Linked DNA regions of Homo sapiens: region 2 is linked to region 1. The links come from fine-mapping of genetic effects on gene expression. Tissue or cell type: fibroblasts. Region 1 holds a variant in brackets; the other region holds the start of a gene. All regions are shown on one strand. Distances are from middle to middle.

The links. PIP is the estimated chance that this variant, and not a neighbour inherited with it, causes the effect.
Region 2: NIN starts here. The variant in region 1 is fine-mapped to the expression of NIN in fibroblasts (GTEx, PIP 0.97).

The regions. Positions count from the first base shown.
Region 1 is chr14:51,128,449-51,136,553 of GRCh38, forward strand. No RefSeq gene overlaps it. Among named protein-coding and RNA genes, the nearest start is that of TRIM9, 37 kb to the left of the region's middle. The variant G/C (reference allele first, on the strand shown) is at 4,058.
Region 2 is chr14:50,827,418-50,835,522 of GRCh38, forward strand. It overlaps NIN (ninein), which reads right to left and starts at 3,745. Exons shown (of 31, transcript NM_020921.4): 1 at 3,589-3,745; 2 at 3,047-3,100. RefSeq lists an enhancer at 2,427-2,476 and silencers at 3,047-3,166, 3,187-3,236, 3,307-3,586, 3,637-4,086.

The DNA.
Region 1 (8,105 bases):
TTACTCATGAGAAGTAGAACAAGGTGATTGTGAACAAGAAAAGACATAGAGAATCTTTACTTAATACTTATACCTATCTGTACTGTTTGGAATGTTTCCATAGTCGTATAGTACTTTTATAAAATACACAAGTGAAAACTAGCAAGTTTTGTGTTCGCCATCATTTATAGGCAATGGCTATGGGACAAATTGTATCAACAACATGCCGAAGGTGAGATGGGAAGTCGTTACCCTGCTCTGGCATTGGTGAGGAAGCTGTTGATAAACAGTCCCAGGATAGCAACACAGAATGTCTATATCCAGGTCGTGGCCAGCAGTGGACAGACTCTAAGGTTACTCCCAATGACCCCTGCCTTCTAATATTCAAATCCCCTTCCTTTGAGTGTGAGTAGGATCTGCAACCTACTTCTTTTTTTTTTTTTTTTTTTTTGAGACAGAGTCTCGCTCTGTCGCCCAGGCTGGAGTGCAGTGGCGCAATCTCAGCTCGCTGCAAGCTCCACCTCCTGGGTTCACACCATTCTCCTGCCTCAGCCTCCTGAGTAGCTGGGATTACAGGTGCCTGCCACTATGCCCGGCTAAGTTTTTGTATTTTTAGTACAGATGGGGTTTCACTGTGTTAGCCAGGATGGTCTCAATCTCCTGACCTCGTGATCCGCCTGCCTCGGCCTCCCAAAGTGCTGGGATTACAGGTGTGAGCCACCGCGCCCGGCTGGATCTGCAACCTACTTCTAACCAAAAGCATATGGCAAAGGTGATGGGATATCACCCCTATGATTATGTCATAATACATTAAAGAAGACTCCATGCTACTGGCACTCACTGTTGCTCTCCTACTGGCTCTGTAGAAGCAAGTGGCCATGATGTGACCTGGATATGAAGAGGGCTGTGTGCTGGGAGCTGCAGGCAGCCTCTAGCGGCTGAGGGTGGTCTTTACCCAATACAGCAAGAAACCAAAGCCCTCAGATCTACAGATGCAAGAAGGTGAATTCTGCTAACAACCTGAGTGAGATTGGAAGCAAATTTTCCCTAACTGAGCCTCCAGATGAGAACATAGCCCAGATGACACCTTGATTGCAACCATTTGAGAGCAGAGGACCCAGCTGAATGGTTCCTAGAATCATGACCCATGGAAACTGTGACAGGATAATGTGTGTATGTATGTGTTAGTGTGCATGTTTAATTGCTTTATTGAGGTATAATTTGTATGCTATATAATTCACCTATTTAAAATGTACAATTCAATGAATTTTAGTGTATTCACTGAGTTTGTAAGCATTACCACAATCTTCGAACATTTCATCTCCTCCCAAAAAACCTCCACACACATTAGCAGTTACTCCCCAACTCCTCAGCCCTACACAATTACTAAACTACTGACTGTCTCTATAAATTTGCCTTTTCAAGACATTTCATGTGAATGAACTTGCATAATATGTGGTCTTTTTTGATTGACTTCTTTCACTTAGTCTTGTATTAAGCCCCTAAATATGTGGTAATTTGTTACACAGCATAGAAAACTAATACACATTCACAACAGTTTAACTCTAATATTTATTTCTCAATTGCTCCTCTTCCCTTCTAATCAGGGTCAAAAGAATCCTCCTCATCCATTGTGTCCCTCGTGAGAGCTGCTCATTTGTTAGAACTTTTATTTATCATTCAGGATTCACATAAAAGGTAAGATCCCAAACAGGAGGGAAGCACTCTTCACTTCCATATCATGGATCTTTGTTCCTTTTGAGAAAGTGCTTCAAGGGTTTAGGCTGTGGCTGAGGATCCTATAATGTTTGTTTGGTTTCCCCAAGGACAAATAGAATGTTTACTATGATATTCAAATCTAAACCTTGGTTTTTGTCTGCTTGAACTATCAGTAACAGAGAGGTGTGTTACAGTCTCACTATGATTGTGGATTTCTTGATTCCTCCTTGTAAGCTTCCCCTTACCCTTCACTATCCATCTGCATCCCTTATCCCTGAACTACCCTGGCCTATGGTTTCAGGTCACCTCTGTGGTTTCCAGTGACCCATTTTCTGGCACTTGGAGATGTTCCTGTTTTAAGAATGTATGAATTTGGCTTTGCATTTAAAATAATTTGTATTATATTTTATAAATCCTTTCTAGGCATTGCAGTGGGAGGGTTTTCATGTTTCTCAGTCTGCCATATTGCTGAAATTGGATCAGTCAAAAGTTGATTTTTCTAAAGTCCTAAATGGGACATATTTCCTGTCCCCAGGTGTCTTATAATTTTGTTTATTAACAGTCATCTCAATGCCTCAAGGAATCAGGTGTCACCCTGCAATCCCCTTCCTAACACAGCATCACTAGGCTCCGGCATTTGACCACAACTCACAAGATTCCAGACACCGCCTTGTAAAATGCCATCACTTCCTACCCTCAGATTCAAGTGCATAGATGAACACATGCTTACACACATGCATGTCTTCCTGTCCTCTCCACAGAGTTTCTGAGGGGGTGCCAATAGGCCAGAAACCAGGCAGTAAACTATGGCCACAATGAACCATGCTCAGTTCCCTGAGAATACGATGTTCCTGTGGATGTGCTTTGCACTTACTTTTCCCTTCTTGTGCTATTTTCCTTATTCCCACCTGGCAAACTCCTGTTCATCATTCAAAACCCACCTCAATCCATTCCTTTTGCAAAGCTTTCCCTGCCCTTTTATTGCTTTGCACATCCCTCTACTATTGGATTCATTATACTATATTTTTGCATTTAAATGTCTGTCCACCTCACCAGCCTATGAGCTCTTTGTATCTCTAATGCCTGCCATGTTGCCTGACTCATACCAGGTACTCAACTAATGTTTATTGACTTTAACTTATCAGGATTTCAGGGTGATATCAGGGAAATGTACTGACACTGACTCCCAGAATTGGGTTTATTGGCAATCTACCCCTGGACCTTGAAATCTGAGAAAGTGACACAGGTTATACCTTCTCAAAGGCATTAAAAGGGGGAACTTGGGCTGGGAGTGGCGGCTAATGCCTGCAATCCAGCACTTTCAGAGTCCGAGGTGGGCAGAGCACTTGAGGTTAGGAGTATTACACCAGCCTGGCCAACATGGTGAAACCCTGTCTCTACTACAAGCCTCTTCAGGCGTAACCCTGACCCATCCTTCCTTAGTGGGTGGGGCTTCCCTGCAGGATCTCCAATAATCCCAGCCAGAGGCTCAGGGACAGAATTCAGATCTCCCTGGGCCTGAGCCTCTAGGGGGAAGGGTGGCCACAGTCTCTGCAGACTAGCAGACTTAACCACTCCTCCTGGTAGTTCTGAGGAATCTGGGCAGACCAGATAAGTGGGTTTCCCTCCAGTGAAACATACCCTCTCCACCAAGGGACAAAGTGCTTTGTTAAACGAGTCCTGCTCCCCATGCCACCCAACTGGGTGAGACCCTCCAACATGGGTTGTCAGACACCATATACAGGAGCAATCCTAGTGGCATCAGGTTGGTGTCCTTCAAGGTCAGAGGTCCCAGAAGAAGGATCAGGTACCCATCTTTGCTGCTCTCTAGCCTCCTTGAATGACATCTCCAGGCACAGAGCAAATCAGATTAATAGGGCCTGAAGTAAACCCCTAGCACACAGCAGCAGCCCTACAGAAGAGGGACAGGACTATTGAAGGAAAAACAAGCAGAAAGCAACAATAGCATCATCAACAATAACAAAAACAACAAAAAGACCCCCAAAAAACCCCATCCAAGGGTCAGCAGCCTCAAAGACTGAAACAAGACCAACTCACAAAGACGAGAAATAATCAACAAAGAAAATGCTGAAAACCCAAAAGACCAGAGTGTCTCTTCTCCTCCAAATGATCGCAATGTCTGTCCATCAAGGGCACAGAACTGGATGGAGGATCAGATGGACGAATTGACAGAAGTAAGCATCAGAAGATGAATAGTAAAAACTATGATGAGCTAAAGAAGCATGTTCTAACCCAATGCAAAGAAGCTAAGAACCTTGATAAAAGGTTAGAGGAATTGCTAACTAGAATAACGAGTTTAGAGAGGAATGTAAATGACCTGATGGAGCTGAAAAACATA[G/C]TACAAGAACTTCGTGAAGCATACACAAGTAACAACAGCTGAATTGACCAAGTAGAAGAAAGGATATCAGAGTTTGAAGACCACCTTACTGAAATAAGACATGCAGACAAGAATAGAGAAGAAAGAATGAAAAGGAATGAGCAAAGCCTTTAAGAAATATGGGACTTTATAAAAAGACCAAACCTATGATTGACTGGAGTACCAGAGGAAATGGGGAGAATGGAAACAAGCTGGAAAACACACTTCAGGATATTATCCAGGAGAATTTCTCCAACCTAGAAGACAGGCCAACATGCAAATTCAGGACATACAGAGAACACCATTAAGATACTCCATGAGAAGATCAACCCCAAGACACATAATCGTCAGATTCTCCAAGGTTGAAATGAAGGAAAAAATGTTAAGGGCAGCCAGAGAGAAAGAACAGGTCACCTAGAAAGGGAAGCCCATCAGACTAATGGTAGACCTCTCAGCAAAAACTCTATAAGCCAGAAGAAAGTGTGGGCTAATATTCAACATTCTTAAAATAATTTTCAACCCAGAATTTCATATCCAGCCAAACTAAGCTTCATAAGCAAAGGAGAAATAAAATCCTTTACAGACAAGCAAACGCTGAGGGATTTCATTACCACCAGGCCTGCCCTGCAAGAGCTCCTGAAAGAAGCACTAAATATGGAAAGGAAAAACTGGTACCAACCACTGCAAAAACACAACAAAACATAAAGACCAATGACACTACGAAGAAACTCCATCAACTAGTGTGCAAAATAACCAAATGGCATCATGATGACAGGATCAAATTCACACATAACAATACTAACCTTAAATGTAAATGGACTAAATGCCCCAATTACAAGACACAGACTGGCAAACTGGATAAGGAGTCAAGACCCATCGATGTGCTGTATTCAGGAGACCCAACTTATGTGCAAAGACACACACAGGCTCCAAATAAAAGGTTGGAGGAAAATTTACCAAGTAAATGGAAAGCAAAAAAAAAGCAGGGGTGGCCAGGCATGGTGGCTCACACCTGTAATCCCAGCACCTTGGGAGGCTGAGGGGGGCGGATCACCAGAGGTCAGGAGTTCAGCTCTTGACCAGGCTGGCCAACATGGTGAAACCCCGTCTCTACAAAAAATACAAAAATTAGCTGGGCATGGCGGTGGGCACCTGTAATCCTAGCTACTAGGGAAGCTGAGGCAGGAGAATCTCTTGAACTGGGAGGCAGAGGTTGCAGTGAGCTAAGTTCGTGCCACTGCACTCCAGCCTGGGTGAGAGAGCAAGACTGCATCTCAGAAATAAAAAAAAAAAAGCAGGGGTTGCAATCCTAGGCTCTAACAAAACAGACTTTAAACCGACAAAGATCAAAAAGGATAAAGAGGGCATTACATAATGGTAAAAGGAACAATTCAAGAAGAAGAGCTAACTATTATAAATATATATGCACCCAATACAGGGGCACCCAATAAAACAAGTTCTTAGAGACCTACAAAGAGACAGACTCCCACACAATGATAGTGGGAGACTTTAACACCCCAGTCAGTATTAGACAGATCAACAAGACAGAAAATTAACAAGGATATTCAGGACTTGAACTCAGCTCTGGATCAAGTGTACCTGGTAGACGTCTACAGAACTCTCTACCCCAAATCAACAGAATGTACATTCTTCTCAGTGCTCATGGCACTTATTCTAAAATCGACCACACAATTGGAAGTAAAATACTCCTCAATAAATGCAAAATAACTGAAATCATAACAGTCTCTCAGACCACAATGCAATCAAATTTGAACTCAAGATTAAGAAACTCACTCAAAAGCACACAATTTCATGGAAATTGAACAACCTCCTCCTGAATGACTCCTGTGTAAATAATGAAATTAAGGCAGAAATCAAGAAGTTCTTTGAAACCAATGAGTACAAAGAGACAACACAGCAGAATCCCTGAGACACAGCTAAAGCAGTGTTAAGAAGAAAATTTATAGCACTAAATGCCTACCTCAGAAAGCTAGAAAGATCTCACATTGACACTTTAACATCATAATTAAAAGAGCTAGAGAGGCAAGAGCAAACTAATCCAAAAGCTAGCAGAAGACAAGAAATAACTAAGATCAGAGAAGAATTGAATGAGATAGAGACATGAAAAACCCTCCAAAAATTATATGAATCCAGGAGCAGGTTTTTTTTTTTTTTTTTTTTTTTTGAGACGGAGTCTCGCTCTGTCGCCCAGGCTGGAGTGCAGTGGCGCAATCTCGGCTCACTGCAAGCTCCGCCTCCCGGGTTCACGCCATTCTCCTGCCTCAGCCTCCCAAGTAGCTGGGACTACAGGCGCCCGCCACTACGCCCGGCTAATTTTTTGTATTTTTAGTAGAGACGGGGTTTCACCGTTTTAGCCGGGATGGTCTCGATCTCCTGACCTCGTGATCCGCCCGCCTCGGCCTCCCAAAGTGCTGGGATTACAGGCGTGAGCCACCGCGCCCGGCCTTTTTTTTTAAATTAACGAAACAGATAGACTGCTAGCTAAACTAATAAAGAAGAAGAGAGAGAAGAATCAAATAGACACAATAGAAGATGATAAAGAGGATATCACCACTGACTCCACAGAAATACAAACTACCATCAGAGAATACTATAAACATCTCTATGCAAATAAACTAGAAAATCTAGAAATGGATAAATTCCTGGATGCATACACCCTACCAAGACTAAATCAAAAAGAAGTTGAATCCCTGAATAGACCAATAACAAGCCCTGAATTTGAGGCAGTAATTAATAGCCTACCAACCAAAAAAAAAAAAAAAAAAAAAAAAAGACCAGGACCAGATGGATTCACAGCTGAATTCTACCAGAAATACAAAGAGGAGCTGGTACCATTCCTTCTGAAACTATTCCAAACAGTTAAAAAGGAGGGACTCCTCTCTAACTCATTTTATGAAGCCAGCATCATCCTGATACCAAAACCAGGAAGAGACACAACAAAAAAAGAAAACTTCAGGCCAATATCCCTGATGAACATAGATGCAAAAATTCTCAATAAAATACTGGCAAACCAAATCCAGTAGCACATCAAAAAACTTATCTGCCATGATCTAGTTGGCTTCAGCCTTGGGATGCAAGGCTGGTTCAACATATGCAAATCAATAAATGTAATCCAGCACATAAATGGAACCAAAGAAAAAACCACATGATTATCTAATAGATACAGAAAAGGCCTTTGATAAAATTCAACATCCCTTCATGTTAAAAACTCTCAATAAACTAGGTATTAATAGAACATATATCAAAATAATAAGAGCTATTTATGACAAACCCATAGCCACCATCATATTGAATGGGGAAAAGCTGGAAGCATTCCCTTTGAAAACCAGTACAAGAGAAGGATGCTCTCCTCTCACCACTCCTATTCAACACCGTATTAGAATTTCTGGCCAGGAAATCAGGCAAGAGAAAGAAATAAAGGGTATTCAAATAGGAAGAGAGGAAGTCAAATTGTCTCTGTTTGCAGATGACATGATTTTATATTTAGAAAACCCCATCATCTCAGCCCCAAAACTTCTTTAACTGATAAGCAACTTCAAAAGTCTCAGGATACAAAGTCAATGTGCAAAAATCACAAGCATTCCTTTACACCAACAATAGACAAGCACAGAGCCAAATCATTAATGAAGTCCCATTCACAATTGCTACAAAGAGAATAAAATACCTAGGAATACAGCTAACAAAAGATGTGAAGGACTTCCTCAAGGAGAACTACAAACCACTGCTCAAGGAAATAAGAGAGGGCACAAAAAAATGGAAAAATATTCCATCCTCATGGATAGGAAGAACCAATATTGTGAAAATGGCCACACTGCCCAAAGTAATTTATATATTCAATGCTATTGCCATCAAACTACCACTGACATTCTTCACAGAATTAGAAAAAACAATTTTAAATTTCATATGGAATCAAAGAAGACCCCATATAGCCAAGACAATACTAAGCCAAAAGAACAAAGCTGGAAGCATCACACTACCTGACTTCAAACTATACTACAAGGCTACAGTA
Region 2 (8,105 bases), 300 kb before region 1:
AGCTTAAATGCACAGGAAGAAAGTCACATTAAATACATTTGAAAAAATGGCTGGGAGCGGGGGCTCATGCCTGTAATCATAGCACTTTGGGAGGCTGAGGCAGGTGGATCACAAGGTCAGGAGATCGGGGCCATCCTGGCTAACACGTTGAAACCCTGTCTCTACTAAAAATACAAAAAAAAAAAAAAAAATAGCTAGGTGTGGTGGCGCACACCTGTAATCCCAGCTACTCGGGAGGCTGAGGCAGAAGTGTTGCTTGAACCTGGGAGGCAGAGGTTGCAGTGTGCCGAGATCATGCCATTGCACTCCAGCCCAGGAGAGAGCGAGAGACTCCGTATCAAAAAAAAAAAAAAAAAGAAAGAAAAAGAAAAATAACAACCTTTGTCAACTACACTATAATATTTAACTAAGGGAATCCTATCAGCGTTTATTCGAAAATGTAAGCAACCTTTATTATTTTACTATCCTGAAGGATGTAATAAACCCATGCTTTTGTTCAACCTAATAACTGGTAGATTACCCAATCAAGTAGTTAACTCAGGTTAGCTACAGGAAAAAAAAAACAAAAAACAAAAAACACAACAACAAAAAAACGCCATTAGCCTGGCACAATGTGCATTCAGTAACCTGTAATCAACTACTAAGTAAATTACAGAAGCAGAAAACAGAGCTGCATGTTTGTTACAAAAAAAAAAAAAAAGGAGAAAGCTTATAACAACTTCCACTTCTTAAGCCATATTGACTCACATTAATTTAGGATGCCTGAGGCTATGAGTATGGTACCCTGAGGTGTAAGTGAAGGTGATCTTCTCTTCTCACGTCTATGAACAATATTTTCCCAACTTTGTTTTTAAAGTGAGAATTAGGGTATAGATAGATGCTTTGTAATTTTTCCATCCAAAAGCTTGAATAAATGGTTAATTGCTGACTTAAATTGCAATAAAGAAGTGTCCTAATTTCAAACAAGGATGCTCACTTTCAGAATCTCATAATCTTTTCAAAATTCTATTTTATTCATAAATAGGATAAAAATCTTTTTGCAAGCTTCACTAAGTCTCTCCATAAGCCCCTGCCCAACAGATGCAAGTTCAATAGCTAGAATTCAAACCAGATAATTTATTGGCTTACAAATGAATTGGCATCTATAAAAATAAGCCTTCTAAAAAGGCTTCACGCTGTTTAAATCCTTCTAAAATGCTCTGGCTAAGCTTGCCCACCCTTTATCAATGTAAGACTGATAAAATGCATTTTCATTATCAACATAAAATGGAAGCATCAAGATAGTTGAAATGTTAGTTTAGAAAGTCATTTGCAGTGACATTTAAAACAATTTATTTGAACATTTGACTCATGATAAGAATACTGCCTATTACATTAAGATTGGCTGTTCAGAATTCACTGGAGCCCTATTCTCCCCCTCTGTGACAGTTAACATCTTTTGATATTAAGGGTCATTACACATCTAAAATGAAAAAGAAATAAGAAAAAAGAACCCCACGCCATTCTGAGCAAGTGCCTATTAAAATGACTGATCCTTGACATTTTAATGCAGACTGTATGATGGCTTCCTCTCTATTGCCCCCTGTGAAGCCTTTCCCTGTATTGGTAATAACTTTGCCGATGTCCAACCCTGTGGAACATTCATCCTACCTTTTCCCCACTCTGCAGAATGCTTCCCTCTAAAGAATCACCAGAGAACAGGGAAAATAAACAAATCTGCAAACAAATTCCCGGGCAGTTCACATCACCTCCCAAAGGACACTGACAATAGCTGAAGAGACCACAACACACAAACTCGTTTTTCAGCCAGCCTGTAATGTTCCTCCTATACACACTCTGGAAATCCTCAGCTCCCTTCAACTCCGGAGCAAGAGCCACCAATATTCCAGGTCAGCCACCTATATAATATGCTCACCACGAGAGAAGACTCAAGGTAAAATTAAACTGACAGAAAAAAGGAATTTTCCTTGTTAGATCATCAAGCCTCCGGAATCATGCAAACATGTGTGTATGTTATGGTGTTTACGGGGACCTAACTGAGAAACGTCGTGGTTCCAGGGGCTTCCCTCATGTGTCAGGATGGACTTTATCAGGATTCTCATCCTACAAAGCTACCATGTCAGTCACAAAAGACAACTACGCAATCTGTTTCGATGTAATAAATTCAGGAGTTGAGCTGTATGGCAAGCCCATCTTAGAAGTCCTCAACACCAGGAGAGGATCTGTCCTAGTTAGGAGCAGAAAGCAGATCTCATAATATCCAAGTTGTCTGGAAACATGATATATGGTAGGGCAGTCTTTCCAGCTCCCATTTTGTTGGTGCCTTCACCTCGGGTTGTCAGGGCTGGGGTTAGGGAAATTGCCTCTTTCCGTCTCTATCTCTTTTAACTTCGCAGCGAGAGCTGGAAGCAGTGACTGTTCCCATCACCTAGTGTCCTTCTGTCAGGGGCCGCTTCGGTAGCTACAGAAGCCTAGCCGCTGGAAGCTTCCTTCCCCGACACTCCATACCTCCATGCCACACCTTTTAGGCAATAACCAAATGTCATTTTGTTCTTTCCCCTTCTCCTGGGCATTATACTGGGAAACTGTTTACGCGCATCGACCCCGCACACCTCCAAAAATCTCCACTTTCCGGGCTCCAAGCAGCTCTCCGCTACTCAGACAGCCCAGGCTAACACCTCGGATTTCCCCATGCAGTTTCCTCTGCAGCGTCTCAATCACAAGGCTGTACGGGCGGCACATGCCAACGGAACCACCACCCCTTCTGCTCCCTCGGGGACTCAAGCCTGCTCTCGGTCAAAGCACAGAAGCGGCTTTCAGCTCCGGGCAGGCGGCCGGGGCGTCGGGGGTACTGGAAGTGCCCAAACCCAGCGGTGCTGCCGCGCGGGGAAGCGGAGGTGCGGCCGCAGGACAAGCGCGCCTCCCAAGTCCCTGGCCACCTGCGATGCGTCCTCAACTCGCCTGCCCATCGCCACTACCAGAAACCTCAGACAGCCCATTGTGTGGGCAGGCAGCGCGCTCCCCCGGCCCCGCCGCCCTCGCCTACCTTCTGTCGGTCTCTCCGGAGCGCCCGCACAGCCGGCAGCCCGCCTCCAGCGCTCTGCAAAGCGAAGGAGGACGCTTTGTTAGGGCTGGAGAAACGGGACAATACTTCGCAGCCGGCGCAGCGGTTCCGGGCGGGCGTCCTTCAAAAGGACGCGAATGGGGACCCGCGTGAGCGTCATTTCCATATGTAAGGGGCCAGCTCTTACAAAAGCGCGGCTCTCGGGGGCCGCGGGCTGCAGCGCGCATCCTCCCCGCCCCCGCCGGCCCGCCCCCGCCCGCGCAGCCCGCGCCTCCGGGACCGGCCCCTCCTCCCGCCTCCGAAGCAGCCCCGTCCCCGCCTCGTCCTCCCGCCCGGCCGCTGCTTCCTCCCGGCCCGCAGGGATTGCGCCCCGCTGGCCCCGGACCCCAAATGGGAAGCCCCCGAGTGATCCGGTGCCCAGTTCGCTCCGGGCTCTCAGGGCCTCGCCGACGGCGCGGGGGCAGCGCGAGGCCTCCGTGCACCCCCAGGCCGTGGGTCCGGGTCCCCGGGGTTGCGCCACTTACTGCGTCCCGGGGCTCAGGCGCCCGGCGCCGCCGCGGGAACCATGGCCGCTGGCGCACTCCGGGCTTGGCGGCGGCAGCGGGACGGCCGCGCCCAGCGCGCTCGGCTCCCGGCTCGGCCGCGGCCACCCGGAGCTCTGGACGCCGGGGAGGAAGGGCCGGGCCCGCGCGGGGAGGAGGAGTCAGGGCGACGCCGGCCCCGGCGCGGCTCCTCCTCTGCGGCCCGCGCGGCTCAGGCAGCGGAGGGAGGAGCGGGCGGCGCCGCCTGAGCCCTCGCAGACGCGCCCTCCCGCTCCGAGCGCCCGCCTCCGAGATCTGAAGTTAGAAACGCCGGGGCTCCGGGTGCGGGTGTAGGAGGCTGGCGCCCCGAGGTCGCCACCGAGCTGGGGCTGGCGCTGCCACCCTCGCCCCTTGCCTGTCCGCCTCCCTTTCTTTCCCAACACGCCTACACTCACCCGCACCGCGGACACTCGGGCCGCAGCGTCTTCGCGCAGAGGAAGGGCCCCCGCCTTCAGCAAGCGGGACTTTAAGGGGGTGATTTCCCAGCCCTCGGGTGTCGATTGGCCATCAACATTGGAAAGGGTGTTCAGGAGGCAGAAGGGCTGTAGAAGTGACTCGGAACCCTGTAGAGCGAGCGCGACCCTCCTGCCGGGTCTACACTGGCTTCCGCACCTGCCCACCACGTCCTCACAGGCTCCCGCCCCTGTGCAGCCTTCTCCGGGTGAAGCTAACCCTCGGTCGCAAGCCACACAGGACGAAAACTCCTTGGAGTTGGTGGTTCCCAGCCCAACAGTTGCTCGATATTAATCGCCTCCTACCTACTACCCCAGAGTCTGCGTTCTCACTCCCCCATCCCTACACTTCTGATCTCATTGCAGTCAAATAGGATCCCAAGTCCAGGCCATGGTTCTTTTTGAGCTGCAGGGTTAAATGTGTTGCCCTTGAAGGATCCGCCTGATGGATTACAACCCACAAGTCTGGTTATTTTAGCAGGAAACTGGTGATTCCTTTTCTACCGAGAAAGCAAGCAACAGACAAGAGGAAACCAGCATTCCTTGAGAATCCAGTGCGCTAGAAACTCGACAGAAATTATCTTATCTAATTCTCACATCACTCTTAGGAGGCAGACATTATTTTGCAGATGAGGAAAATGGATCTCCCAGAAGTCAAAGAGCTTCCTCAGGATCACACAGCAGGAACTCCACAGAACTGAGATTCAAAAGCAGATCACATATGTGGCAAAATTGCATAGAACTGAATATACACTCACAAATGAGAGCACGTGAAACTCATGAAATTTGAATAAGACATTTGGACTACACTAATGTCCATTTACTGATTGTAATATTGTTCTACAGTTATGCAAAATGTTACCATTGAGAAAAATTAAGTGAAGCGTCTATAGGGAATCTCTCTATTATTCCTTACAACTTCAAGCGAATTTACAGTTACCTCAAAAAATTTTTTTAAAAATTTTAAACATCTCAGTCTTATTCAAAAGCCCAGGCTCTCTTCTTTCAACACGGTATATAAGCGTGCCTGCAGAATAAGAGAGATTTATGCTCCTCTCTCCTTTTTAAACAGTCTTGAATAAGTACACATACACACACAAACACACACTCATACACTGTATGCATGGTTGTTCAGTCATCCAGTAATATGATACAACACACACACACACACACGCAGTTCATTAAGAGGATAGCTAACCTGTTACCAGAATACTTACATAGAGGTCATCTTGTAAGACAGACAATAATGCTCACTGGGCACTAAAACAGCCAACAGTCTTGGAAGGTAAGAATGAAGAGGTGTCTTTCTTGTTTCACCTAATCTCTGCCATGGAAGCCTCATCCTACTGGTTACCTCTCCAAGCATCGCTTTTTAACCTGCAAGAATCCTTAAGGATGATATTGATCATTAGTTTAAAACAGTGATTCCTGGGGGTCAGGGGATATTGGAAGTGGCATTCACTCCCTGTGCAGGAAGATCAGAATTGCTGGGGGTTGTGTAATTTGAAAAACACAAGATGCGCTTTCTTGAGAGGAGTAAGTGGGGTGGAGTTAGCCCTGGGACTGGGAACTGGGATCACCTCCAGCCTTGCTACAAAGGAGGGAAAGCATGGAGCATGGTTACCGCGTGGTGTGGGTTGGCAAGAGCAACTCTACCAAGAAAGATGATTTATTTAACACAATGGGCCTGCAGTTTGGTTTGCACTGAGCACATGGTTAGTCTTAGTCCAAACTGGAGTCATGGGAAAAAAAAGCAGAGACTTCCTTTAGAGCCCATTACTTGATCTTTTCTCTGTTAAACACAAAATAACAGCAGAAGTAGCAACCAGGCTCCAGTTCTACATTATAACCAATATAAGAGAGAAAAGAAGAAATGTAAATATTTATTCAGAGTTATCACCCTTTACAAACAAAACTTCACTCTTATCTGTTGCAGCTTATCTGACTCTGATTTTTACTCTCACTTTACAAAGAACCTTGTTCAAGGACCTAGGATCCTTGAAGTATTTGTACGTGAAGTTTTTGAAGGGTTTTCTGCCATATTTCACAGTACGGAACTGGCTTTCTCAGATGGTTAAAGCTCTAAAACGTTAACTAAAGAATAATCCAGGGAAGAGAAAGTTACTCTTTGTTTCTTTTCTTTCTTTTTATTTATTTATTTATTTATTTTTTGAGATGGAGTCTTACTGTGTCGCCCAGGCTGGAGTGCAGTGGTGCAATCTTGTCTCACTGAAACCTCCACCTCCTGGCCTCCTGCGTTCAAGCGATTCTTCTGACTCATCCTCCCAAGTAGCTGGGATTACAGATGTGCACAACCACATCTGGCTAATTTTTGAATTTTTAGTAGAGACAAGGTTTCACCATGTTGGTCAAGCTGGTCTTGAATTCCTGACCTCAAGTGATCCTGCCTCGGCCTCCCAAAGTGCTGGGATTACAGGCGTGAGCCACCACGCCTGGCCTACTCTTTGTTTCTTCTTGAAGTAATTTTGAAATTATCAGTTTAGAGTCAAGACGACAAATGAGAGAGAGAGAGAAAAAGAGAGAGAAAAAGTCAGGCTTTGTAAATTTCCTGGAACCTGAAAAGTTATTTTTTTTTTTCTTAGCCAAAAAAAGGCTCTAACCAAACATAGTCTACCCTCTCCCAACTCACAGTTGGGTATAAACTATTTTTTATTCACAGAATAGTCAAACAGCCTGTCACTCATGTAGCAACTCCTGGCTCCTTCTAAACTTCTTTAATCGATATCTTTCTTATTTCTGTGACCATTTGAACTCAGCAGGACAGTTTTCAGGCAAGTTGCAGAGCTGTGTCAAAGACAGCCAGATTGTTAAAGTAGATGATCAGTTATAGTTTGGCCCAGGAACTCACTCGGTGAAAGAAAGGGACATCAATGATCTCCCCAAGGCCCTAAGGAAAATGAATGAGGAAAGGAAAAAGGGAGAAATTTGAGTTCCAGACATACAAGTCAGGGACTTAAGAGTTCCAGCAGCAAAATGTTGGTGGTTAAGAACCCAGGAAGAAAGAGGAAAAGTATAGGAAAGGGAAGGGAAGGTGACAGAAGGCAAACTGATTTACACTTTTGCCCCTGGGGGACACCTATTAGAAATTAGGATTCTCTATTCATTTTCCTTATGAAGAAAATGAAAGAAGAGGAAACCAGGATTCCATACAATTTATTTTTTTAAAGTAAGCATTGATTGCCTACCCTGTGCCTAATACTGTCCTGAAAGTCACACAATGTTCAAAATAAACATCAGGCTGGGCATGGTGGCTCACACCTGTAATCCCAACATTTCTGGGGGCTAAGGTGGGTGGATGGCTTGAGCTCAGGAGTTCAAGACCAGCCTGGGCAACACAGTGAGACCCCCCTTCTCTACTCCTCTTTTTTTATTAGCCAGGCTGGGTAGCACGTGCCTCTGGTCCCAACTTCTCAGGAGACTGACATAGGAGCATCGATTGAGCCCAGGAGGTCAAGGCTGCAGTGAACAACGATTACACCACTGCACTTTAGCCTGGTGACAGAGTGAGAACCTGTCTCAAACAAAACAAAATGAAGTAACAATCAACCTTGGTTCTTACCCTTGAGGAATGCATCATTCTCTTTTGGGAAGGTAAAAATATGCACTCATGAGACAGTAAAGGAGTGATGTTAGGTGGCATTGGACTCTAATTACATTCTCCAGTTGGGGGACATACACACGCTACAGCATGGGAAGAAGAGAGCAATGATTTCCCTAAAACGTGGCTTCCATTTGATCATTCTGACCATTGCTTTTCACTTCAGGTCCTAGATCTTTTTCCTGACATTCAAGGTCCTTCCTGATCAATGCAAAGGTATGTATCCTCAGTGTCTGCAGGAAACCTACCCTCCCTCCACTCTGCTCATGTGGACCTTCTAATCTTCCCTCTGCTGCTCTTTCAGCCCAGATCATCAGTCCTCATGTGTATTGAATGCCTTGTCTCTCTGTTCATTGTTTGGCGCAGCAACTGAAGCATAGCAGGAAGTG